Regions from separate parts of the Homo sapiens genome. Here all the other regions are linked to region 1. The links come from fine-mapping of genetic effects on gene expression. A gene starts in region 1. Each other region holds a variant in brackets. All regions are shown on one strand. Distances are between the middles of the regions.

Region 1 (8,183 bases):
GTATATAAATAAAATAAAATTTTATTTTTTAGCAAAAAAAACCTTTTGCTGTTATTTAAAAATATTCTTGCTGTTTTCCAACCATCAGAGGAGACATGCACTTTTCATTGCTGTTAACAGATCTTTTTTTATTGAAGAAAAATACAATTATGATAACTTCCATAGATTATTTCATTGAATTTCACGTAATTCTATCAAGACCATTGTGAAGTAGATGTGCTCTGCGGATGAGAAACTGAAGCTCAGGCTTTAAACAACTTGCCAAACACAGTTACTAAGAAACAAAACTATTAACCATATCGTATCACCTCAATCATCCTTTTACTTTCCTTTGAAAGTAAAAAACTCACTCTCTTTTGAAAATCCCATCCAGGCTCTACCTGGACAAAAGTGCCTAGCTGCCTCTCTTTCCATAGTGAGCTCTGAATAAGTAGCCTTTGATTAATCCTATAGGTGGTCTCTATTCTTTCGATAATACAGCCTCATAAGAAGAAAAATTGGTGATTTAGCAATTATTGCCTGAATAAATTAAAGTGTTTTATTTAATACTTTAACATTATGAAGAGGGCAATATATGAATTAATATGTAAATAAAATAAAATGACTTTAGACATAATATGAAAAAAAACAGTTTTACATGTTCCAATTTCTCCCTATATGTTTTCCCATCCATTGTGCATTTTACTGTTGTCCCTAAGGGTTTGAACATTTGATTTATATCACCTCTCTGGTCCCTCTGAGTCTATCCACAGACCCCAGGTTATAATAATATAAGCTTGACTTCCTTCAACTCCACCCGGTTGGGGGCAAGGGTAAGGCATGGTACCTGCAGCCTGACTGCTGTTTTGTTTTGTTTTGTGACAGGGTCTTGCTGTGTCGCCCAAGCTGGAGTGCAGTGGTGTCAATCATGGCTCACTGCAGCCTCAAACTTCTGGGCTCAAGGGATCCTCCTGCCTCAGCCTCCTAAGTAGGTTGTTGGGACTGCAGGTGCATACCATAACACCTAATTTTTAAATTTTTAATACAAATGGGGTTTGATTTTTAAAGTTTAAAATTTTTTTGTACAAACAGGGTCTTGCTTTGTTGCCCAGGCTGGTCTGGAACTCTTGGCTTGAAGTGATCTTCCCACCTTGGGCTCCAAACTCAGGTGTGAGTCACTGCACCCAGCCAAGGAGCCTGACTCTTCACAGTGCACTCCTCATCTCATTGGGACATTGGTTGGGCTAGCAGGGAATAACTGTTCTTACTTGGAAAGTACTCCTCTCTGTCAGGCATGTGGCAAGGTCTTCCATATGTGATCTCCTTAACCCACAAACAACCCCACCAGGAGGGTTATATTATCACCACCAATTTACAGATGGGGAAATTCAGGCTTTGAGAGATTAAGGACCTCAGTCAGATTCATAAGCCCAAACTATCTGGGCTCTTAGCCCCACATGCTCCTGCCTCAGTGGGCTACACCTTGGTGAGATGCCTATGTTTCGGTCCACTGGTCCACTCCTGAAGACCAAGGCACAGGTTTAGAGAGACGTACCAGCGGCTAAAGGTACTTCTGCATCCAAGAACTAGAGGTGTCCCGTGTCCCCTTTACAACATTGTTGGCCTCCCTCTGGGCCTTGTACCTTATGTTTATTGCCTCATTTAATCCAGGTAAGGAGTCTTTAGGATTGGTGGCATGTATTCTTTTTATAGACAAGGAAGATGATGCTCAGGAGTTTGGATAACCTGCCCAAGGTCACGCAGTGGAGGAGAGGACTAGAAGGTAAATCAATGGACCTTTCACTACCTTCCCCTTCTCTGGGCTGTAGCAGTGAGTTAACTGGCTCAGACTTGCCCAGCGGAATGCCCTTCAGGACACACTGAGTACTGTAGTAAGAGCTGCATATGCGCTCAGGGAGAATGTGGATAGACGCTGTTTGTGATTCACGGGTAAAGGGCCTTCTCCCAGAGGCAGCAGAGGCAGATCCTGTCTCTGGTGTGCCCTGGCCCCCGACTTGGAGGCCTCCTGGGCCAGGCCAAGACCTTCCCCGGCAGCGATGGTCTCCAGCCACACTCAACTGCCCTGAAGGGACATTTCCTGCTTATTCCCTTGCCCGGCTGTGTCCTCCACCCGGAAGGCCTGTGCCTTCTTCGCCTGCATGTCCTACCCTGAGGAGGCTCCCTTGGTCTTTCATCGCTCTCCCTATGGGTCTTCACGCCTTCCCGAACCACCGCGCCCAAGCAGGAGCACGTTCTCGGCCCTCTTCACAGGGCGCTCCTCCTCACAGGGGTGCCCGGGATTTTTATTCTGTGCCTTCCTGGTGGCTCCTACAAGTCTGGAAGGGCAGGAGGCGCATCTCACTCCTCTGGGTCCCCTCCCCTAGCGCCTGGCGGGAGCCCAGGCTGCATTTGTGGAATTCATGACTTTTTCTCTCCTGCTCAAGCTGAACACATTGCTGGCTCCTGCTCGGGTGGAGCCCGGCTAATTAGAGTGAGGGGCTCCCCGTAGGGCGAAGGGGTGCGCTGTCAGATGTGGCATTCCCGTTTTACGGAGACACACGGTGTCTTACACGCCAGGGAGAGGTCTGAGACGCAAAGAGCCGTCGAGCGGGCTGCGGGATTGCTTCGCTGTCACCTCCGCCTGCAGCCACCCTTCCGCACGCACTTGTGTGTGCACCCAGGCCAACATGGAAGGCGCCATCCTAACTTCTGCCGTGAGCAGGTGGGAGGGAAGAGAGACGAGAGGTATTCCATTGGTTGTCTGGGAAAATGAATTGCACCTTCCCCTCCCTTGCGGAGGATCAACTTTTCCCACCCCCTCGGGTGGGCACTCGCATCCTGGGGCCGGAGCCTGAACCCGGGAGCCAAGGGGCCCCAGTTCCAGGGACGTGAAGCTGAGCGTACAGCGGGCGCTCCCAGACACTGGGGAAAGTGCTTTACGATGTCCCGAGTCCCTCCAGTCTCGCCAGCGGGGCGAGCGTGAGGGTGCCCCGACCGACCAGCGGCCCCGGGTGCAGGGTGGCGGGCCCGGCGGCGCGCGTCCCCCTCCCCCTCCTGGCGGCCCGCACGTGTCGCCCGCGCCGCGCCCCCACGGGTTACGCGCGGGTCCCGCAGCGCCGCGGCCGAGCCGGGCTGCCCGGCCCGCGGACACAGCGCCGGCCGCCGCATCCCGTGCGGGGCCGCGGCGCGATGCTGCGCTGGAATGAGGAAGCGCGGCGGCGAGGGGAGGGCCCGGGCGCGGTGCGCGCGGGGGTGGCGGCGGCGCGCCGAGCGGGCCCGGCGCGGGCGAGCGGGCTGCAGCCGGCGGCGGCGCCAGCAGGTACGGCCCGCACCCGCCGCCGCCCCGGCGGCCTTTGGGGGCTGAGCCGGAGCCCGGCGCGATTGCAAAGTTTTCGTGCGCGGCCCCTCTGGCCCGGAGTTGCGGCTGAGACGCGCGCCGCGCGAGCCGGGGGACTCGGCGACGGGGCGGGGACGGGACGACGCACCCTCTCCGTGTCCCGCTCTGCGCCCTTCTGCGCGCCCCGCTCCCTGTACCGGAGCAGCGATCCGGGAGGCGGCCGAGAGGTGCGCGCGGGGCCGAGCCGGCTGCGGGGCAGGTCGAGCAGGGACCGCCAGCGTGCGTCACCCCAAAGTTTGCGGGGTGGCAGGGCGCGCGCTCTGGCCACCCGCCGCTCTGGGCGGCAGCTGGTGGCAACGCAAGGGCGCGGCGGGGGCGGCCGGCGCGGAGGGGGCCAGGTACGGGGCCCGCGGGCGGCGCTGTGCGCGCGGGGCAGCCGGTCGGCCGGGAGCGCGAAAGCCTGGTCTGAGCCGGCTGGGGGCGGGGAGTGTGGCGGAGAAATGGGGAACAATGCGAGTGAGCAACTTCAGGAAGTCATTGTGAAAGAAAGCTGGGAAGAGCTCCGCGGCCAAGTTAGCAGGACACTCTAACAAGTGACTGCGCGGCCCGCGCCCGGGGCGGTGACTGCGGCAAGCCCCCTGGGTCCCCGCGCGGCGCATCCCAGCCTGGGCGGGACGCTCGGCCGCGGCGAGGCGGGCAAGCCTGGCAGGGCAGAGGGAGCCCCGGCTCCGAGGTTGCTCTTCGCACCCGAGGATCAGTCTTGGCCCCAAAGCGCGACGCACAAATCCACGTGAGTGTTTTCAAATTGAATTTCAATAGGAAAACTTGGGGTAACTGGTGAATTTAAAAAAAAAAAAACACAGTAAAGAAAAGCGGTAAGGTTGGTAGACCCTGGTGTCGCTCAGGTCCGCCTCTCTTTTCTGAGGACAGTGAGAGAGTTCACTTCTGTCAAGCGTCTGTTGCTCTGCACTGTGCCAGCAGGTGCAGGACCAGGCCGACATGGGACACTTCTGAGCAGCCCCGCTGTCACCAGGAGAGGAGTTCTAGCTCCCAACCATATTTAAATTTATGTAGACCTACATATACCCACGGAAGTCAGCCTTTATAAAGTCGTGTGTAAAGAGTTTTCCTTATATTTGAGCCGGGAGCTTTCTTTTTATACTATAAATATGATGAGATCGAGTCTGAACTTAATTTCTGCAAGAGAGGAATTATCCCGGCTTTGAAAAGTTAGTCCTTTTGCTGACCGCAGGTTTGACGCTCAAGTCACCAAACCTTCTCAGGAAAACCCTTAGTAATATTAAGGCATCAGGTTACTTGCGGTTATATTTGAAATGTATTTTAAATATTTGTCAAGCATCGCTGCTGATGCCTAAGGAACCTCGTGAGGGCTTGTTTTTCCTTCTAATTTGGAGGCATCTAATGACCGAAAACCGTAGCGATTCCATAGGGTCTGACCAGGCACAGCTTTCAAATGCAGCTTCCCTCTCTCTAGGGACTGCAGCCCACCCAGACTGAATTTCAATGCGGTGCGCTTTGCTTAGGTTACCCACTCACAATTTCCCACTGCGCCGCAGGCAGTATATTTCAGCTTTGAGATACCTTGTTTTAAAATTCCAGACAAAATGGTGTTGAGGAAATGTCTCCTTACTAGTCCCATCAACTTCTGTTAAAAGAGGAAAATTTATGGAATTTGAAAATACTGCGTATGATATTTAAACTTTCATAGACATTCAAATGCTTTTAAGGCCAGGTTCAATTTGGTTATGAGTCGAGGGGTGGGGGGGACCCACATAGAAATGTCCTGGGTCCTCTTGAGTTTATTTCTTTGTTTGAAGATGTTTGTTCAATGAGTTTTATTGTACTCATCTTTTATATGGAATTTTAAAAAGTAACAATTTCAGTATTATTTATATTAGAATGTGTCAGAATTATTTCCGTGACAAATCAGATCATTTGGGCTATGGCTTAAAATGTACACGAGGCAAATATTCATGACAAGAAGATTCACCTTCTTACGCTGGCATCTTGTAAAATGCAGAACAAGTTAAAGAAATAATGTGTACACATACAAATAATGATGTCACATTAAAAATACTACACTATTCTTGCTTGATGGAATGTATCTGATTTCCAATTTCACCATGAACATATTTCATACATTTTTTACATGAAAAAAAACGTGACTCTTAAGTCTCACAGTCAATCAGAGCTGGTGACCAGAACATTTTATTGAACTAAATGGTCATGTTTTCTTCCCCTTTTGTTTCACGGTGAGAGTTGAAGGAAGGAGTTTAGAAACTCTCCAGTACTTGTTTAATTCATCAGTGTTCTAATTAGAGTGGTACCTCTTGGAAAACTACACACCCCCCTAATGCAGAAACATCATAGCAATAATCACCCACCCTCAGGGTCTCCAGGAGACCACAAGGGCTGCAGATAAAAGTCTGGATGTGTTAGGTTTGACCCTTTCGAAGAGTTTTACACAGGCTCCTAAAGAGAAGATCAGCTGTGGCCGTTTGTAGCCATTTCCTTTGTCGAAAAACTAAGATCGCAGTGAATGTATTAGCCAAGAGGTCTAAAGCCCTGTTGTACTGCAGGCCACTGTCTTCCTTGTTTGACTAGAGACTTGGAGTTTGAGAACAGTGGTTCTTTGGTTTGGATACATTTTTTGTTCTTGATTTGGATGTGTGTGTTTCATGCGTGGTTAATATAGCATATTTTCAATATAAATGTCAAAAATTTTGAAATAGGAAAGAACTCTCTATATATTAATGTACTTATACACACACTTCAAGATTATGCATTTATTAACAGATACATGAAATAAATTCCATGTGCATATGCACATATGCACACAGAGCGTGCACACACACAGCATGCACACAGCGTGGAGTGAGAGGCATGGGGCAGTGTGGAAGAGTTTTAACATCAAACAGACCTGAAATGAGTATTAAAGGCCCCCTTTATTTTTAAACTTTTACTAAAACAAGATGGATTTCCCTATGTTATATAATGGTGAATTTTAGGCATAAATAACGTTTTTTGAGTGTTGCATAATTGTACGTATTAATGTAATGTAACTGTGGTTAACGAAGAATTCATCAAGGATATCACTGTTTTGTGGCATTTTTTTTTTCCTCCTCTAATCTTTGGACTTGTGAAATAATTTCACTATGAAATAAATGTTGGTTCTTGTCATATTCTAAGGGAGATTGATGTAAGTGGCTCCACTCCAGCTTACAGAAGGTAAACCACGACCTTTTTGCGTTCTCTGAAAACGCTTGTCTTCCGATGCCTCTGTTTCTAAGACTGACAAGCACTCTGGGGGCACTGTGACGCCTGCTTCTAGCGGCAGAGTTGCTGCAGCTCCTGTCCTGGCTGTGAACATTGTTCTCTCTCTGGTGTCTCTATGTTCATAACTACAGAGACTTCAGCTCTATTCCATTTCATATTTGTGCTGAATAATCATTCCATTTTATGGGAGAAAACACAAGATGTAAAAGCAACAAGTGACCCATCCTTTGAAGCTTACAAGAAGAGAAACATTAATCTATTTCACGTCTTGAAAACAGATCAGTTTTATTTTGCTCAAAAAGGGCACATGTACATTTTTGATCTAGGTCTTAGAAACGTAGAGTTTCAGAGGATCAGCATTATACACACTGTCACACACACACACACTTAAAATTCAGATGAGGAACAAGATAGGAATGAGGTTTTGTTAGGGACGCAGAGCACCTAAAACCAAAGGATATCGACAGTAACAAAGCTGTTTTTACTGTAGTGCTGACTGAACACTCATGCTGGTGTCTTCATGTGGACCATGGCTTTCTTGTATTTCTTTGCAGTTTAATAAATGACTTCATATCTCAGGTTACCTTTCCACATCTCCTGGAATATATGTTTATGTCCTTAAAGTTTCAGTGTCGTCACTTTAGTAGCTTTAGTTTGAGTTTTTAAATGTTTGGTAATATTCCAACAAATATTTTTTAAGACATTATGAAACCTTATGAAGTGCCATATATTACAAGTGAGATAAAACAGCAAGCAAAAGAAGGTTTGCAGAAGGTTTTTAAGTGGCGAAGTGCGGGCCTGCCCATTTTGGTGTCTCCTTGGTGGTTACTCCTGAGAAGGGCCTGGAGGAAGAGCAACTGAGGCCTAATCTACAGGCAACTGCCAAATTGTTTCAGTTGACGTTTTTCCCTCTCATGTTTGACTATAATAAATAGGTAGTTGCCAGTGGAGCCTTCAGCCAACCACCTGGTAATAAACTGTTAAAAATGGTGCAAACCCTAGGTCACAGGTGTGGGGGCCATTTGTCTTGCCTGTTAACAGGCCTGGCCTTAATTCTTTTCTCCCATGGCCATTTCTGCCTTTGGGGAACTCACAATTCCTGTTGACTAAAAGAGCACCCTTTTCCACCACAAGCCTGACAAATCAGACGTCCACATAATTTCTGAACTCGTTTTGGTTAGGACAGGAAGCACAGGCTCCCTTCCTGTCTGTGTTTTCCTAAGAGAAAACGGTCTTCCCTCCTTTTTTGCATATTTGGCAAGTGGTTCCACCTTTCTCTGCACCCTGGTGGAGTGTGAAGGCAGCAGAGGAACCTTTTGGAGGAGGAAGAGGACACAGAGGCCCTGTAGCCAGGCACCAAGATCCCTCCCAGGTGGCTGGGTCTGAGGGGAACTCCGAGCAGCCCTAGGTCCTCAAAGTCTGGATTTGTGTGGAAAAGGCAGCTCTCACTTGGCCTTGGCGAGGCCTCGGTTGGTTGGTGAGTGCCACACGGTTTCTTTGTGTGCTTGCATGGATTGGAATAGCCATTGTGTTCTTCCGTCTTCCCTGCTGGTGTTTCCACAGTGGGTGG
Region 2 (8,184 bases), 100 kb after region 1:
TGCCGCCTTCTCGCTCCCGCCAGCAGCATAGACTGGACTGGACCAGACAATGTTGTGTTTGGATTTGTAACTGTTTTTTGTTTTTTGTTTGAGTTGGTTGATTGGGGTTTGATTTGCTTTTGAAAAGATTTTTATTTTTAGAGGCAGGGCTGCATTGGGAGCATCCAGAACTGCTACCTTCCTAGATGTTTCCCCAGACCGCTGGCTGAGATTCCCTCACCTGTCGCTTCCTAGAATCCCCTTCTCCAAACGATTAGTCTAAATTTTCAGAGAGAAATAGATAAAACACGCCACAGCCTGGGAAGGAGCGTGCTCTACCCTGTGCTAAGCACGGGGTTCGCGCACCAGGTGTCTTTTTCCAGTCCCCAGAAGCAGAGAGCACAGCCCCTGCTGTGTGGGTCTGCAGGTGAGCAGACAGGACAGGTGTGCCGCCACCCAAGTGCCAAGACACAGCAGGGCCAACAACCTGTGCCCAGGCCAGCTTCGAGCTACATGCATCTAGGGCGGAGAGGCTGCACTTGTGAGAGAAAATACTATTTCAAGTCATATTCTGCGTAGGAAAATGAATTGGTTGGGGAAAGTCGTGTCTGTCAGACTGCCCTGGGTGGAGGGAGACGCCGGGCTAGAGCCTTTGGGATCGTCCTGGATTCACTGGCTTTGCGGAGGCTGCTCAGATGGCCTGAGCCTCCCGAGGCTTGCTGCCCCGTAGGAGGAGACTGTCTTCCCGTGGGCATATCTGGGGAGCCCTGTTCCCCGCTTTTTCACTCCCATACCTTTAATGGCCCCCAAAATCTGTCACTACAATTTAAACACCAGTCCCGAAATTTGGATCTTCTTTCTTTTTGAATCTCTCAAACGGCAACATTCCTCAGAAACCAAAGCTTTATTTCAAATCTCTTCCTTCCCTGGCTGGTTCCATCTAGTACCAGAGGCCTCTTTTCCTGAAGAAATCCAATCCTAGCCCTCATTTTAATTATGTACATCTGTTTGTAGCCACAAGCCTGAATTTCTCAGTGTTGGTAAGTTTCTTTACCTACCCTCACTATATATTATTCTCGTTTTAAAACCCATAAAGGAGTGATTTAGAACAGTCATTAATTTTCAACTCAATGAAATATGTGAAGCCCAGCATCTCTGTTGCTAACACACAGAGCTCACCTGTTTGAAACCAAGCTTTCAAACATGTTGAAGCTCTTTACTGTAAAGGCAAGCCAGCATGTGTGTCCACACATACATAGGATGGCTGGCTCTGCACCTGTAGGATATTGGAATGCACAGGGCAATTGAGGGACTGAGCCAGACCTTCGGAGAGTAATGCCACCAGATCCCCTAGGAAAGAGGAGGCAAATGGCACTGCAGGTGAGAACCCCGCCCATCCGTGCTATGACATGGAGGCACTGAAGCCCGAGGAAGGTGTGTGGAGATTCTAATCCCAACAAGCAAGGGTCTCCTTCAAGATTAATGCTATCAATCATTAAGGTCATTACTCTCAACCACCTAGGCAATGAAGAATATACCATTTCAAATATTTACAGTACTTGTCTTCACCAACACTGTCCCAAGGTGAAATGAAGCAACAGAGAGGAAATTGTACATAAGTACCTCAGCATTTAATCCAAACAGGGGTTCTTAGTCTCAGCACTATGACATTTTGGGCTGACTACTTATTTGTTAGGCGGGAGCTCTCCTGTGCATTGTAGGATAATTAGCAGTATCCCTGGTGGCTACCCAATAGACGCCAGTAGCACCCCGAATTGACAACCCAAACTCTCCAGACATCACCAACTGTCCCCTGCGAGGAGAAATCACTCCTGGGGGAGAACCACTGACCCAAATGAATTCTAAACCAATCAAATGTCTGGGAAGCCCTCCAAGAAAAAAAATAGAAAAGCACTTGAAGAATATTCCCAATATTCCCGGTCAGCAGTATCAAGGCTGACTTGTGTTCATGTGGAGTCATTATAAATTCTATAAATCAATTATTCCCCTTCGGTCTTAAAAATATATTTCCTCATAAACATTTGAGTTTTGTTGAAAAGATGGAGTTTACAAAGATACCATTCTTGAGTCATGGATTTCTCTGCTCACAGAAGGGTGTGGCATTTGGAAACGGGAATAAACAAAATTGCTGCACCAATGCACTGAGTGAAGGAAGAGAGACAGAGGATCAAGGGCTTTAGACAGCACTCCTTCAATATGCAATCACAGAGAAAGATGCGCCTTATCCAAGTTAATATCTCTAAGGTGAGAGCCTTCTTAGAGTCAGTTTGTTGCAAATTTCACCTACTCTGTTCTTTTCCATCCATCCCCCTGAGTCAGTTGGTTGAAGGGAGTTATTTTTTCAAGTGGAATTCAAACAAAGCTCAAACCAGAACTGTAAATAGTGATTGCAGGAATTCTTTTCTAAACTGCTTTGCCCTTTCCTCTCACTGCCTTTTATAGCCAATATAAATGTCTCTTTGCACACCTTTTGTTGTGGTTTTATATTGTAACACCATTTTTCTTTGAAACTATTGTATTTAAAGTAAGGTTTCATATTATGTCAGCAAGTAATTAACTTATGTTTAAAAGGTGGCCATATCATGTACCAAAAGTTGCTGAAGTTTCTCTTCTAGCTGGTAAAGTAGGAGTTTGCATGACTTCACACTTTTTTTGCGTAGTTTCTTCTGTTGTATGATGGCGTGAGTGTGTGTCTTGGGTACCGCTGTGTACTACTGTGTGCCTAGATTCCATGCACTCTCGTTGTGTTTGAAGTAAATATTGGAGACCGGAGGGTAACAGGTTGGCCTGTTGATTACAGCTAGTAATCGCTGTGTCTTGTTCCGCCCCCTCCCTGACACCCCAGCTTCCCAGGATGTGGAAAGCCTGGATCTCAGCTCCTTGCCCCATATCCCTTCTGTAATTTGTACCTAAAGAGTGTGATTATCCTAATTCAAGAGTCACTAAAACTCATCACATTATCATTGCATATCAGCAAAGGGTAAAGTCCTAGCACCAATTGCTTCACATACCAGCATGTTCCATTTCCAATTTAGAATTAGCCACATAATAAAATCTTAGAATCTTCCTTGAGAAAGAGCTGCCTGAGATGTAGTTTTGTTATATGGTTCCCCACCGACCATTTTTGTGCTTTTTTCTTGTTTTGTTTTGTTTTGACTGCACTGTGAGTTTTGTAGTGTCCTCTTCTTGCCAAAACAAACGCGAGATGAACTGGACTTATGTAGACAAATCGTGATGCCAGTGTATCCTTCCTTTCTTCAGTTCCAGCAATAATGAATGGTCAACTTTTTTAAAATCTAGATCTCTCTCATTCATTTCAATGTATTTTTACTTTAAGATGAACCAAAATTATTAGACTTATTTAAGATGTACAGGCATCAGAAAAAAGAAGCACATAATGCTTTTGGTGCGATGGCACTCACTGTGAACATGTGTAACCACATATTAATATGCAATATTGTTTCCAATACTTTCTAATACAGTTTTTTATAATGTTGTGTGTGGTGATTGTTCAGGTCGAATCTGTTGTATCCAGTACAGCTTTAGGTCTTCAGCTGCCCTTCTGGCGAGTACATGCACAGGATTGTAAATGAGAAATGCAGTCATATTTCCAGTCTGCCTCTATGATGATGTTAAATTATTGCTGTTTAGCTGTGAACAAGGGATGTACCACTGGAGGAATAGAGTATCCTTTTGTACACATTTTGAAATGCTTCTTCTGTAGTGATAGAACAAATAAATGCAACGAATACTCTGTCTGCCCTATCCCGTGAAGTCCACACTGGCGTAAGAGAAGGCCCAGCAGAGCAGGAATCTGCCTAGACTTTCTCCCAATGAGATCCCAATATGAGAGGGAGAAGAGATGGGCCTCAGGACAGCTGCAATACCACTTGGGAACACATGTGGTGTCTTGATGTGGCCAGCGCAGCAGTTCAGCACAACGTACCTCCCATCTACAACAGTGCTGGACGTGGGAATTCTAAGTCCCAGTCTTGAGGGTGGGTGGAGATGGAGGGCAACAAGAGATACATTTCCAGTTCTCCACTGCAGCATGCTTCAGTCATTCTGTGAGTGGCCGGGCCCAGGGCCCTCACAATTTCACTACCTTGTCTTTTACATAGTCATAAGAATTATCCTCAACATAGCCTTTTGACGCTGTAAATCTTGAGTATTCATTTACCCTTTTCTGATCTCCTGGAAACAGCTGCCTGCCTGCATTGCACTTCTCTTCCCGAGGAGTGGGGTAAATTTAAAAGTCAAGTTATAGTTTGGATGTTAGTATAGAATTTTGAAATTGGGAATTAAAAATCAGGACTGGGGACTGGGAGACCAAAAATTTCTGATCCCATTTCTGATGGATGTGTCACACCTTTTCTGTCAAAATAAAATGTCTTGGAGGTTATGACTCCTTGGTGAAACCTTCTCACATTCTCATTGGAAGCATATGGGTTCTCAAGGAACGAAATCCCTTTGGCTGTTCCCAAAACTCATGTCTTTTCTTTTATGGCCTTACAACTCCAACACAGGGCTAGGCACAAAAGACACACTCAAGGGATTGAGCAATTGGTAAAAGACCTGGAGGAAGTTTGACAACCAAGACCGAAACTCCACGTTCCTCCAAAGCCCAGGAAATCCTTCTGAAAACTTCTGGCCTTTTCTCTGCACCAGAACCCAGAACGGGCTGGCACAGTGTTGCTGTGCGGAGCTGAAGGCAAAATGTTGCTGTTGCCTGCACAGATCTGTCTTCTCTGCCTTTTTGCAAATCATCCGCCCCTAACTTCCTCTAAGGAGGCAGAAAGGGATTCCCCGTGGCTCTTAGAATAGCAACCCTGCCCTCAGCATCCTAGGCTCCCACTGGCTTCTCCTGCCATTAAACAGGCCTGAGCAAAACCATTCCCTAGTTTTGAG[T/C]TGCCATGAGACTCCCTCACCGACTCCAGCCTTGCCCCGGCTCCAGTGCCTCCAATGATCTCCCAGGACTTTGTTTCCCAAATGCAGCTTGTAATCATCTGAGTGGCTGTTAAAAATGCAGCTTTCAGAAGCCTCCTCCTGAACATTCTGGAGCTGGAGGTCTGGACACAGCCCACCCTCGAGGTGTGGGACCAGCCACCAAGTCGTGCTAAGCAGACTCCCAGTCCATTCCTCCTAGAGACAGTTACAGCCTTGCCTCTCTTCCTGGGCCCAAACCCATTTTTGGAAGGGAGGGGAGGAACCAATAATAGTCTCTTTTTTTTCCCCCTGAGTTTGAAACAACCCAGATATTATAGATAAAAGAATCAACAAGTGGGAAACCAAAAAACTAGCTTTCTTACTCATAAAACCGAGATGAGAGGACACAGCTTCACGGTGTGACCCCAGCGGGCATTACACTCGTTCTGCATTAGACAGACTTGCCCACCTGGCCACAGGTAGCAATTAAACTTAGGAGGCCCCAGCAAAGGCTGAGCCCCTGCCCTGCAGGACAGGGAGAGGGGACCAGAACCTACACCCTATAGGCAGCAGACCCCCGTGCAGCAATAGGAAGCGCACTCGGTTCCTACGTCCAGACTCAAGTCCAGGCCACTCCTTTCCTCCTGGGGTCCAGCAAGGGGTTTTACCAAAGTCCATCCACATGGAGACAGGAGTGAGAAAATAGAGTCCACAGCCATCCCTGCATCACCCCTGGATCTCAGCCTGTTTACCTTAATGGAGAAGCCAAGCCTGTTCACCTGGCCCTCCATGGTCCACTAAGATGGAAGGCCATGCCCCAGCTGCCACTGGTCTCCACAGTGACCCTCAGTGTCACACAGTCTCTCTCCCTGGCCCTCCTTCAATGGGAGCCTCCTAAAGGCCTCCTTACCTCCCAAGTCTCCTTAATCCTACCTAGACTTTTGACTTCTCAATAGTGATTGTGTTAAACCAGGAACCTGATCAATCACTGACACTGCCCTGCACACAGATCTCCCCTGGTTTCCTGCTACTCCAAAGCCAAGTGCCATTTCCTCAGCCAGGAGCACAAGGTGGCCCTGCCTTAGAGGTGTCCCTCTGGGCATGTTAAGATGTGCATAAGGCATGGTGATTAGGAATGGGACTCTGGAGCTGCGAAGCCTGGGTGTGAATATCTGCTCTGTACATTAACGCTGTGTGACATGGGACACATGGTCTAACCTCTTTGAGCCCCAGTTTTCTCCTCACTGAAAGCCTGGAGGGTTACAGGAAGGATTAAATCCTCAGTGTCTGTGGACCACTGGACTCAGTGCTGTGGGAGTGGCTGCTCAGCCTTTCCTGCCTCACCTGGCGTTTGTATAGCTCCTTCTAGCCCCCTTATCTCATTCCAGCTGCATGACAGCCAAGTGAGACAGGGACCCATCCACATCCCCCTTAGAGATCAAACAATTGTGTCTGCGAAGCAGCAAACCTCCTTCTCAGCCATCACCATGCTGGGCATGTTCTGGGTGAGCCTGGGGAAGATGATATGTGCCCCATCGTAAAGTGAAAGAACTGCATCTCAGGGCTCCACAGAGCACCCAGAGTCCAGTGCTGCAGAGGCAGGATGGGCCCAGGCCCCTCAAGCCCATTCTTCTCTTGGCTCCTGTTCCATCTCGGCAGTGCTTCCTCCAGGGAGGATGTGGGATTTGATACGTGGGAATGACAGGGTTTGGCAATCCCATAGCTTCTGAATTCCAGGGAGGGGAGGAGAAAGATGCGGGTGAAAACCTGCTTTCAGAGGGTTTTCCCTTGGCTGCCTCCTCAACCAAACTCACCCACAAATTGCATGTCAAGTTTCCCAACCTCCACCTAGGGGAGCAGGCTCTTTCACTTCAGAGAATTCAGAGGCATCTCGAGGGCATATGCCAGGGCAGGCACAGAGTGAGGAGGTGGGGTTGGGGGTTTTTGGACAGCTCTGGTCCCCTCCAGCCCCACAGAGCATGCAATGTGGCTGATGCTGCTGGAGAGCTGGTCTCTGAAAGGAGAATGCATGAATCTGAACTAGAAACAGAAGGGCAGAAGGACCAGGAAAAGAAATGAGAGCCAAACAGAGTCTGAGCAATGAAAGGATGTTTCAGAGAGCTGAAAACACAAGCTAAGCTAAGCATCAGTGGACTGGGAGAGCTCTGAAAAATATCAGGGAGCCTAGAGGTATCTAGTCAAAGATGAGTACAATTACAACCAATAAACTCAAGACCAAGGACAAGAGCAGGGACATTTCCCCCAATTAGACAGTGCCCCCTCTGTGTCCCTGCCCCCAACACACATTGACACATTTGACTTTTGACTCCATTCTGTTCTCTCTGCACTGCATCTTGTCTCTGGCTCTTCTTAATCTTAAGATCCTTCATTGGTTTGTTGAATAACTTGAGCTGCAAAGCAGAGACTGGGAAGTTGGAAATAAAGTAAATCAATATCTTCTTGATAAAAGAGACACTCCTGACATCACATAATGACTTGACCCACTCACATCACATCGCTCCTCAGCCTTCAGTGCCTGGCTATGTGCTGGGATCAAGGCTCACAGCATCACAGGGGTTGGGCGCTGTAACCACCTGCTTGTGCCATGTGTACTCCCTGTCTGTCTCTACAAGTACCATTGTCACCTCCAGTTCTGCAGATGAGGACTTCGAAGCTTGGAAAAGCTGAGTAACCTGCCTGGGGTCACACAGCTGGAAATACTAGGACCAGCACTTGTCCCTGAGCACCTGACTCCTGTGCCTGCACTCTAGAAAGCACAGGGAGAAATGACCCAGCACAAAGGTGATTACAAAACAAGGTGCAATGAAAAGCGCTCTAAAGTGCTGTAAAAGCCCAGTGGAAGGAAACATCACTTCTCACTTGAGGATTACAGAAGGCTTCCTGGAAGAGATCTTGTCTGATCCCAGCTTTTCGGAATGATTGGGATTTTGATGTTGGAAGCAGAGGATTGGGGGTGTAAGAAGGGCATTCAAGACAGAACAAATGTGAATGAAATCTGTTGTATGTCAGAACCAGAAGTCCAACAGCAATAGCCCTGTTTGTCTGGGAAAGAGTACTCAAGGGGAAAAAAATAGGAGATAAATTCAGAAATGTAGACTGAGGATAGGAGGAGTTTGAACAGGTGGATAGGGAGGCATCCAGGAGTCTTAGGAGGTGAGGGGGAGGGGGTGATGCAATGAGAACTCTGGAGACAGTGAAGGGGGCCATGCCATCCAGGCAGAAGAGAGGCTTTACCCA
Region 3 (8,184 bases), 53 kb before region 1:
ATACCACTGAACTACTGTATACTTTTAAAAAAGGTAAGGCAGTAAGTTTTATATTCTGTGCATTTTATTGTAATAAAAAATTGGAAAAAAATCACATAGGATTTACCTAAAATAGCACTTAATAGAAAATGTATAGAAGTAAAACCAAGAAAGAAAAGAAAGAGGAGAGAAAGAAAGAAAGAAAGAGAGAGAGAGAAAGAAAGAAGGAAAAAAGAAAGAAAGAAAGAAAGAAAGAAAGAAAGAAAGAAAGAAAGAAAGAAAGAAAAAAAGAAAGAAAGAGAGAGAGAGAAGGAAGGAAGGGAGGAAGGAAAGAAAAGAAGAAAGAAAGGAGGGAGGGAGGCAGGAAGGGAAGGGAAGGAAGGCAAGGGAAGGCAAGGGAAGGGAAGAGAAGGGAAGGGAAGGAGAAGAGGAAGAGGAAGGAGAAGGAAAGAAAGAAAGAAAAAAAGAAAGAGAAAGAAAGAAAGAAGAAAGAAAGGAAAGAAAAAAAGAAAGCGAGAAAGAGAAAGAGAGAGGGAGAGAGAAAGGGAATCACCCTATTTTAATTGCAGAGAATAAACCCAAAGACAGTACACAGGGCAAAATGGTAAAGATAAAAACAGAAGTTAATAAAATACAGAACTAAAATATGACAGATTAGAAAAACAAAACAACAGGTTTATTTTAAATCTCATGAAATTAAGAAATCTCTAATGAAAATTTTCACGTTATGAAGAGAATGCACAGAAGCAACTTCTGAAAAGGAAAATAAATTCAAACTATAGATGCTTCAAGAAATAAAAAGATGAGTATACTGAGTACAACCTGATGGCAATTTAATATGTAAACCAAACTAGAATTAACAAATTTCTAGAAAAAAAATAACTTAACGAATAACTCAAGGAGAGTTAAAAAAAAATCAAACAGTCCAACATCCCTTAAATCTGTTGAATCAGTAGCATAAAATCTTTTGAGAAAAGAAAATATCATGCCTGATAATTGTACAAGTAAATTCCTGCACAATTTATTCAAAAAATTCTAACCTTATACAAACTTTTTTAGAGTACAGAGGAAAAGAATACTATTTAGTTGAGTTTATGAAGTTAATTTGCTCCAAATACTAAAACCAGATAAGAATAAACAGGTGAAAAAAAAAAAAGCATAGGCCAATCTCATTCATCTGCAAAGAACAAGAGAAAGAACATCAGCATGAAATCTAACATGTATAGAATGTTATGGCTATGTAGGGTTTCATCTTATAACTACATGGTTTAGCATCAGAAAACTCATTGATAGATAAAAATATTTATACATAAATGGGGAAAATGAGAAAAAGCGACTTAATAGCATTCATTATTCATGAAAGTATTGCTCAGAATAGTAGGAAATTAAGAAAACTTACTTAAACTGATAGAAGGAGGCTACTAAAATCCTAGGAAAAACATCGTATAAAATCCTAGGAAAAACATCGTATTTAATGGTGGGCTGTTAAAAGCCTCCCGTTTAAAATGAGTTGCATGATGACGATTCCTAATATCACACTTTCCTTCAACATTATATCTGAGACTGTAGCCAGTAATCAAATACAAGAAGAGGATACAAAATAAGAGAATGGCTCGTAAATGACTAGAACATCTAAATGACATGTAAGATGTCAAAATAAGAGAATGACATCTTAAATGAATAGAACAAAGCCATAATTATTTGCAGATAATATGATGTTCTGTAGAAAATCCAAATGAATCTGCTGATGAATTATTAGAATTAAATAATGGAATTTTAAAAGAATGTGTGATACAAAATAAATAGAGAAAAGTTAATTGCATTTGTATACCTCAGCCAAAAGTATTTACAGTGTGGAAATTTAATATTAAGTAATATGAAATTTACAATAGAAACCAAAATTGTAATTACCTAGGAATAAACATAATATTAATAGATGTACAAATTTAGAAGACCTAAACAAAAAAATTAGATATCTGTATAGGAAGACTTAATATATTAAGATGTTAATTATCTTCAAATTCATCCTTCTATTCAAGAAAAATCCAAATTTCCAGCAGGTAATTGGTTACATCAAGCTAGCTCTAAAATTTATATGTAAGAGCCAACAGTCAAAAATGAGCATTGCTGAAGGGAAGAATACATTGGAAGGATGGACATTATCACATATCAAGACATACTATAAAAATATGATCATTGAGATATGTTTTATTTGTATAGAGATAAACAAATATACTTACAGAATAGAGTACCCAGAAACAGACTTAACAAAAAAATAGAAACCCAGTTATGACAGCTAGCATTGAAGAACATGGGAAAATGGACAGCAACAATTACTTTTACATAGGGAAGAAAATGAACTAGGATTCCTATCTCACATAATACACTAAAATCGTTTCAAGGTAAATTTATGACATAAATGTTAAAAGCAAAACTATAAAAGTTTTGAAAGGCAATGTAGTAGACTATTACCATGTATAGGGAAAACTTTCTTAAAGAGTCGAAAAACACATTCGCAGAAATGATTAACCAATTGGTCTGAAAATTGAGGTACAATGAAGACGTGAAAAGATGATACACATCGGAATAAAATATTTACAACACAGATCACTGAGCAAGTATTTTTTAAAACATATAAAAGAGTCCCAATATATAGATACAAAAAAGACAATTCGATGGAGAAGTGAACAAATTACTTCAATGGGTACTTCATGCAAGAGAAAAATAAAATATGAAAAAGATGCTCAATCTCATTAGTAAGCAGGGGAATTCCAATCAAAGCCACAATTATATTACAGTGGCAAGAAGCTTAAAGATTGACAATATCAAGTGCCTAGGACATTGTGGGACAGAGGAGTAGTGAGTACTTTCTGTGCCTAACACACAGGAGGGCGGTTGTGTAACCAGTGTTACAAAGGGTGTTCCTTGACCATGAAAAGCAAGTCCAACAAAAGAGTGAAGAAGCCAAGTGGTTTTAAGTGCAAATCAAAGTCCCTCAAGTTAAAGCAAAACCAGTCACACTGACTATATTTTCAATGTATTCATTTAGTGCACCTAAAATCCATTCAGTGTCCAAAACTCTGATGATCAAATTAATTCAAATAACAATATCACAAAATCATAGTAATGTGCAAACCAGCTGCCATCTATTTTTGTAGCCATAGTGAGAGATTATATTTTAGATGATGATAAAATAGTCACTAAAATGATTTTTAAATTGTTAAACTATTACAAGCATAGTCAGTACTTATTATGCTTTATTATGATCTGAAAGTCACACAAGTTTGTAAACTATCATTATTATAAGAACTGTTTTAAAACAGATGACAGGGGTTGTGTTTTTTCGTTATTGTTGTTTTGTTTTCTGTCTTTTAAGACATTTTCTGTGAAGCAATAGATTCATGAAGGAGAGAGAACAGCATTGATAGGAAGTAACTAAAACTTCATTTCATTCAGCTTGTGCACATGTACCCTAAAACTTAAAGTATAATAAAAAAAAGTTAATAGATCCTCCATGAGCTTTAATATCCAATGTCCTCATTGTGAAGTTGCCTCAATTACGTGTGCTACAATTTGCAAACCAGTTAAAAATAAAAATGATAAATTGGCAACTAAGTTCAGCCAGTCCTGGAATTCTAAAATTCTAGGATACACCATTGATTACTGGTAAAAATACGAAGATTCTCCATCATCTTGAATTTTATAATTCTGACAGCTTTATGGAAGGAACATATTCTGCCATTGTCCTGGGCATCACTCTACAAGCTTTCTTGCTTGTAAGTAGATCTGAGCCAAGTGCCAGGGCTGCAGAAGCAAGTTCTAGGGCTTTGGAGTCAGACAGCATTGGATTCCCACTGAATTAAGTACTGTGCTTCTGCGCCTAGCCTCAGGTTTACTATGTATAAATGAAGTCTAAATAACCACCTGGTGGGCTAGTGCAAGTATTAAGCACAATAATGCCTCTGAAAGGCCCAGGACATTCTTGGAACAGAGAAGCTCTGTTTCTGCTCAGCCTGTCTCCATTCCTGCCTGATTAGCTCAGGACGCCACAGAGAGCAGGAGGGGCAGCCACATAACAGGTTGGGGGGTGTGTCCATTGGACCAGCTTGCATATCATCTCACCTCTGACTGCACTGTCACTGGCCCTCATGTGCTCTCCCTTCTTTGTCTGCTAAGACCCTCCCAATGGTTTGCTGTTGACATCCAACCTCAGCTCTGTTCCCTAGACTCCGATGCACATCTCTCCTCTCCAGAACCTGCCTCTATGGAGTGGCATTAAACATCTGCCATCCTGAGCCCTCGCTGGTATGGTCCCAAGACCTCCCACAAATGTCACAAGTACCACCAGATACCTGAAACATTCTTTCCCCAACTCTTGTCAGAATGTCCCAACCATAGGCTCTCAGCTTCAGTTCTGCCTGCCTGGTGACATGCCGGCCTGAGGCAGTAGGACAGCCTTGCATGTTTGGCAATAGAGCTGTGCTTCTCTGAATGATTTAGGAATGATCTGGGTATATTAAAAAACTAAAAATCCAAGGTGTCTATTATGATACATGATTGCCAAATCTGCCACTCTTTATCTCCCAGTTGTTCCTTGTCCCATTACAATTTGGTTTAGAATTAACCCATTCCCTCCAACCGTTCTTGCTGGCTTGTAATTGTAATATGTATGCAATGGACACAAAATCTGAAGCATCTCTTCCTGAGTCCCGGTCTGCCTCTAACTTGCTTTGTAAATAGTCACTCTGTCTGTTTAAAGTGTCTCCACCCTCTTCCTTCTATCTTCTGTTAAGCTACAGGAATGCTGTTTTCTAAAATGCCATCCTTTATGGAAAGATCATGACATTCCTTTCCATAAAATCCTAAAATGTCAAACATAAGAATCATTTGGTTCTTTGTAATACAGCTCTAGCTTTACCTCC[C/T]ACTATTTTTTCAAAACCTAATATGTACCTTATATTTATTTCTTCATGTATCTTACATTACAAACATATAGACCCATGTGCACTTTTCCAAATTGATCATATTCTTTCTTTTTACAGTAATGTTTTCTGGAAACAATCTCAAATTTAGAGATAAGTTTCAAGAACACTACTAAAAAGTTTGTACCTTCAAATCATTGATGGCAGGTTGTGGACATAATGCTCAATCTATCCCAAACTAGAGTACATTTTCTAAAAACAAATAAATTACCCAAAAACATATTCCATAAGTCTATCAAAATACAAAACTAAAATTGTTATATGACTGCCATTCAATCCACAAACCCAATTCAAGTATCGTCATTTGGTCCAAAATATCCTTTATAGCAAAGGGATCAAGTTTAGAAACATGCATTGCTTTTAGTTATAATTTCTCTTTAGTCTTCTTCAACCTGAAAAAGTTACTCAGTATCTCCTTGACTTTCATGTTCTTGACAGGTTTGAAGAATACAGGCCAGGTGTTTTAGGAATTTCTCCCAATTTGGATTTGCCTGGTGTCTCCTCATGATTTGCTGTGCTGTGATTTGTCTTGCTGTGTCCTATCAAGTGAAACACAGTTTCGATTTGTTTCATTACTAGTGATGTTGACTTTGATTGCTTAAAGTGGTAAGTGTCATGTTTCTTCACTGTAAAATTGTTTTTTTCCTTTTTAATTGAGGGTTTTATGGGTAGCTGCTTTGAGAGACTATGCAAATATCCCATGCCTCATTAAAGTTATAATTTGTTCACTTATTTATTGTCTATATCACTATGAACTATTGGTTCCCTATTAAATTCAGTGGATTACAATCCATTACTATACTGATGTATTTTAATGTTTAAATTCTTCTAGATTTGAACAGTGGGACCCTCTTCAAGTTTTCTTCTGTGTCCTTTTAATGTGTTCCTTTTCAAACCTTAACAACTTTCTTACTTTATCACAGCAAACTATTCCAAGCTCATGTCATATTTTCTCTGTTCTAGCTTTGAAATCAACCATTATTCCAAAGATCCATGGTTCCCATTTGGTGGAAATGGTATTGCAAAACCAAGAGCTGGATCTAGGTGTACTCATTGCTATTGAATGTTGCTGTTTCTACTATTTCTTGGAGACAGAGCTAGGGCATATCATTGTATAAATACCTACACATAGGTGATAATATGGACAAATCTACAGATAGCTTCGATTTCAATTCAGAACCATAGTTTTAGTTTGGTTCCTTTATATTTCTAACATCCTTCTCCAACAATAAGAAACTAGCTCTCATTATTCTTAATATTTATTTGATTAATCTCCTTGGCCATAACCAATCTCCCTCTCCTGCACTGATGCCTCTTTAATCCCAGTTGGCCCAGACACCTCACATCAGGCTGCATGGCACACATCCAGGTCTTGTTGCAAGCTAAAAGCCTACCAAGAAAAAGGACAACACTTACCCTATATTGTGTCTTCTTCCGAGTATCAACTCCACTGTGGCATCTGCCTATGTTCATTCACCCCGGTGCCTTCAGGTTATATTTTTGTGTTTTGTCCAGGGTTTTTAGCTGGTCTCTGGGAGGTTTGGTCCAGCAGGAGCTAACACAGCCATAGCGGAAGCTGCCATAGGATTTTGTTTATTTTCTTTTCCTTCTGTTTTGTATTTGTGAATTTTCTTTATAAGATCAAGAAAGGATTCCTGGCCGGGCGCGGTGGCTCACGCCTGTAATCCCAGCACTTTCGGAGGCCAAGACGGGCAGATCACGAGGTCAGGAGATCGAGACCATCCTGGCTAACACGGTGAAACCCCATCTCTACTAAAAATACAAAAAATTAGCCAGGCGTGGTGGCGGGCACCTGTAGTCCCATCTACTAGGGAGGCTGAGGCAAGAGAATGGCCTGAACCTGGGAGGCGGAGCTTGCAGTGAGCCGAGATAGTGCCACTGCACTCCGGCCTGGGCGAGAGCGAGACTCCATCTCAAAAAAAAAAAAAAAAAAAGATTCCTAGTTTCCTAAGAATTTTTATCATGAATCGGTATTCAATTGTATCTCATGCTTTTTCTTCATTTATGGAGATAATCATAAGATGTTTCTCCTTAATCTGTAAATGTGGAAAATTACATTGGTTAATGTTCCAATATTAAGCAAAATTTGACTTTTTGGAGTAATCCCATTTTAGTTGTCTGTATTGCTGTTTATTATATTACTGGATTTTGTTAATATTTTGATTAGGGGTTTTGTATCTGTGTTCATGAAAATAATTTGGCTTCTAATTTTCCTTTATTGTGATGTTCTTTGAAGGTTTTATATCCAGGGTATGCTAGCATTATAAAAATAAATTGAAAGGTTCTTATTTTTCTATTGTTTGGAAGTGTTTGGAAAAAGTCACCAATAAGGCCAATTAGAAAGGAGTTCTCTTTAGCGGAAGAATTTCATGACAGATTCAATATCTTCATTAGATAGAGGATTATTCAAATATTCAATTTCTTATTGTGTCAATTTTAGAAAGTTGTATTTTCCAGGGATTTTGACATTTTATCTGAATTGTCAAATTTATTGACATAAAGCTTTTAATAATATCCTAATATTAGCTTTTTAATGTCCATAGCTTCTTTATAAATGTCCCCTTTTTATCCCTAATGTTGATAATGTATGTGTTTCTCATTATTCTTTTATCTGTCTGGCCAGAGATTTACCAATCTGATTGGCTTTTTCAAAGAAATAACTTCCAAGCTCTCTGTGTCCTTATACCTAAGGTATAAATCTTATTTTTTTAAACTTTAAATTCAGACTGACAATCATAGTCCTTTTATTTGAAATATTATCAATTTTCATTATCACTACTTTTATATTTAGATTTAAATCTACTATCTTGCAATTCATTTTCTATTTGTTGCACTTGTTCTGAGCTTCATTTTTTCCTTCCTTTTTTTTTATTCTGTCCTAATTAAACTTTAAAAAAATTCCTTCCATTTTTCCCTCCATTTACTTAATGGTTAAACTTTTAAACTTTTGAGATAATTGTACATTCACATGCAGTTGCAAGAAATAATGGACCCTGTCTCCTTATGCTAACATCTTGCAAAACTACAGAACAATATCACAACCATTGACATTGACATTGACACAATCCACTGATCTTATTCAGATTTCCTCCATTTCACTCATACTTGAGGGTGTGCTTGTGTATCTAGTTGTATCAATTTTATTCCATGTGTAGGTCCATGTATCCACCATAGCAGTCAAGGTAAAGAGGCATTCCATCACCAC

Direction of the effects. Alleles are on the strand shown, and positions count from the first base shown. SD is a standard deviation of normalised expression in the study named. Not every link is listed here.
In carriers of allele C in region 2, the expression in B cells of the gene that starts at base 3,900 in region 1 tends to be lower than with T alone (large effect, 1.2 SD a copy in Fairfax 2012).

Evidence for each region.
Region 2: its variant is fine-mapped to the expression of IKZF1 in B cells (Fairfax 2012, PIP 0.95).
Region 3: its variant is fine-mapped to the expression of IKZF1 in whole blood (TOPMed, PIP above 0.99).

The regions. Positions count from the first base shown.
Region 1 is chr7:50,300,817-50,308,999 of GRCh38, forward strand. IKZF1 (IKAROS family zinc finger 1) reads left to right here and starts at 3,900. Exons shown (of 8, transcript NM_006060.6): 1 at 3,900-4,106. RefSeq lists an enhancer at 1,857-2,358 and a silencer at 3,213-4,012.
Region 2 is chr7:50,400,684-50,408,867 of GRCh38, forward strand. IKZF1 (IKAROS family zinc finger 1) reads left to right here. Exons shown (of 8, transcript NM_006060.6): 8 at 1-4,418. Among named protein-coding and RNA genes, the nearest start is that of FIGNL1, 46 kb to the right of the region's middle. The variant T/C (reference allele first, on the strand shown) is at 4,909.
Region 3 is chr7:50,247,924-50,256,107 of GRCh38, forward strand. No RefSeq gene overlaps it. Among named protein-coding and RNA genes, the nearest start is that of IKZF1, 53 kb to the right of the region's middle. The variant C/T (reference allele first, on the strand shown) is at 4,902.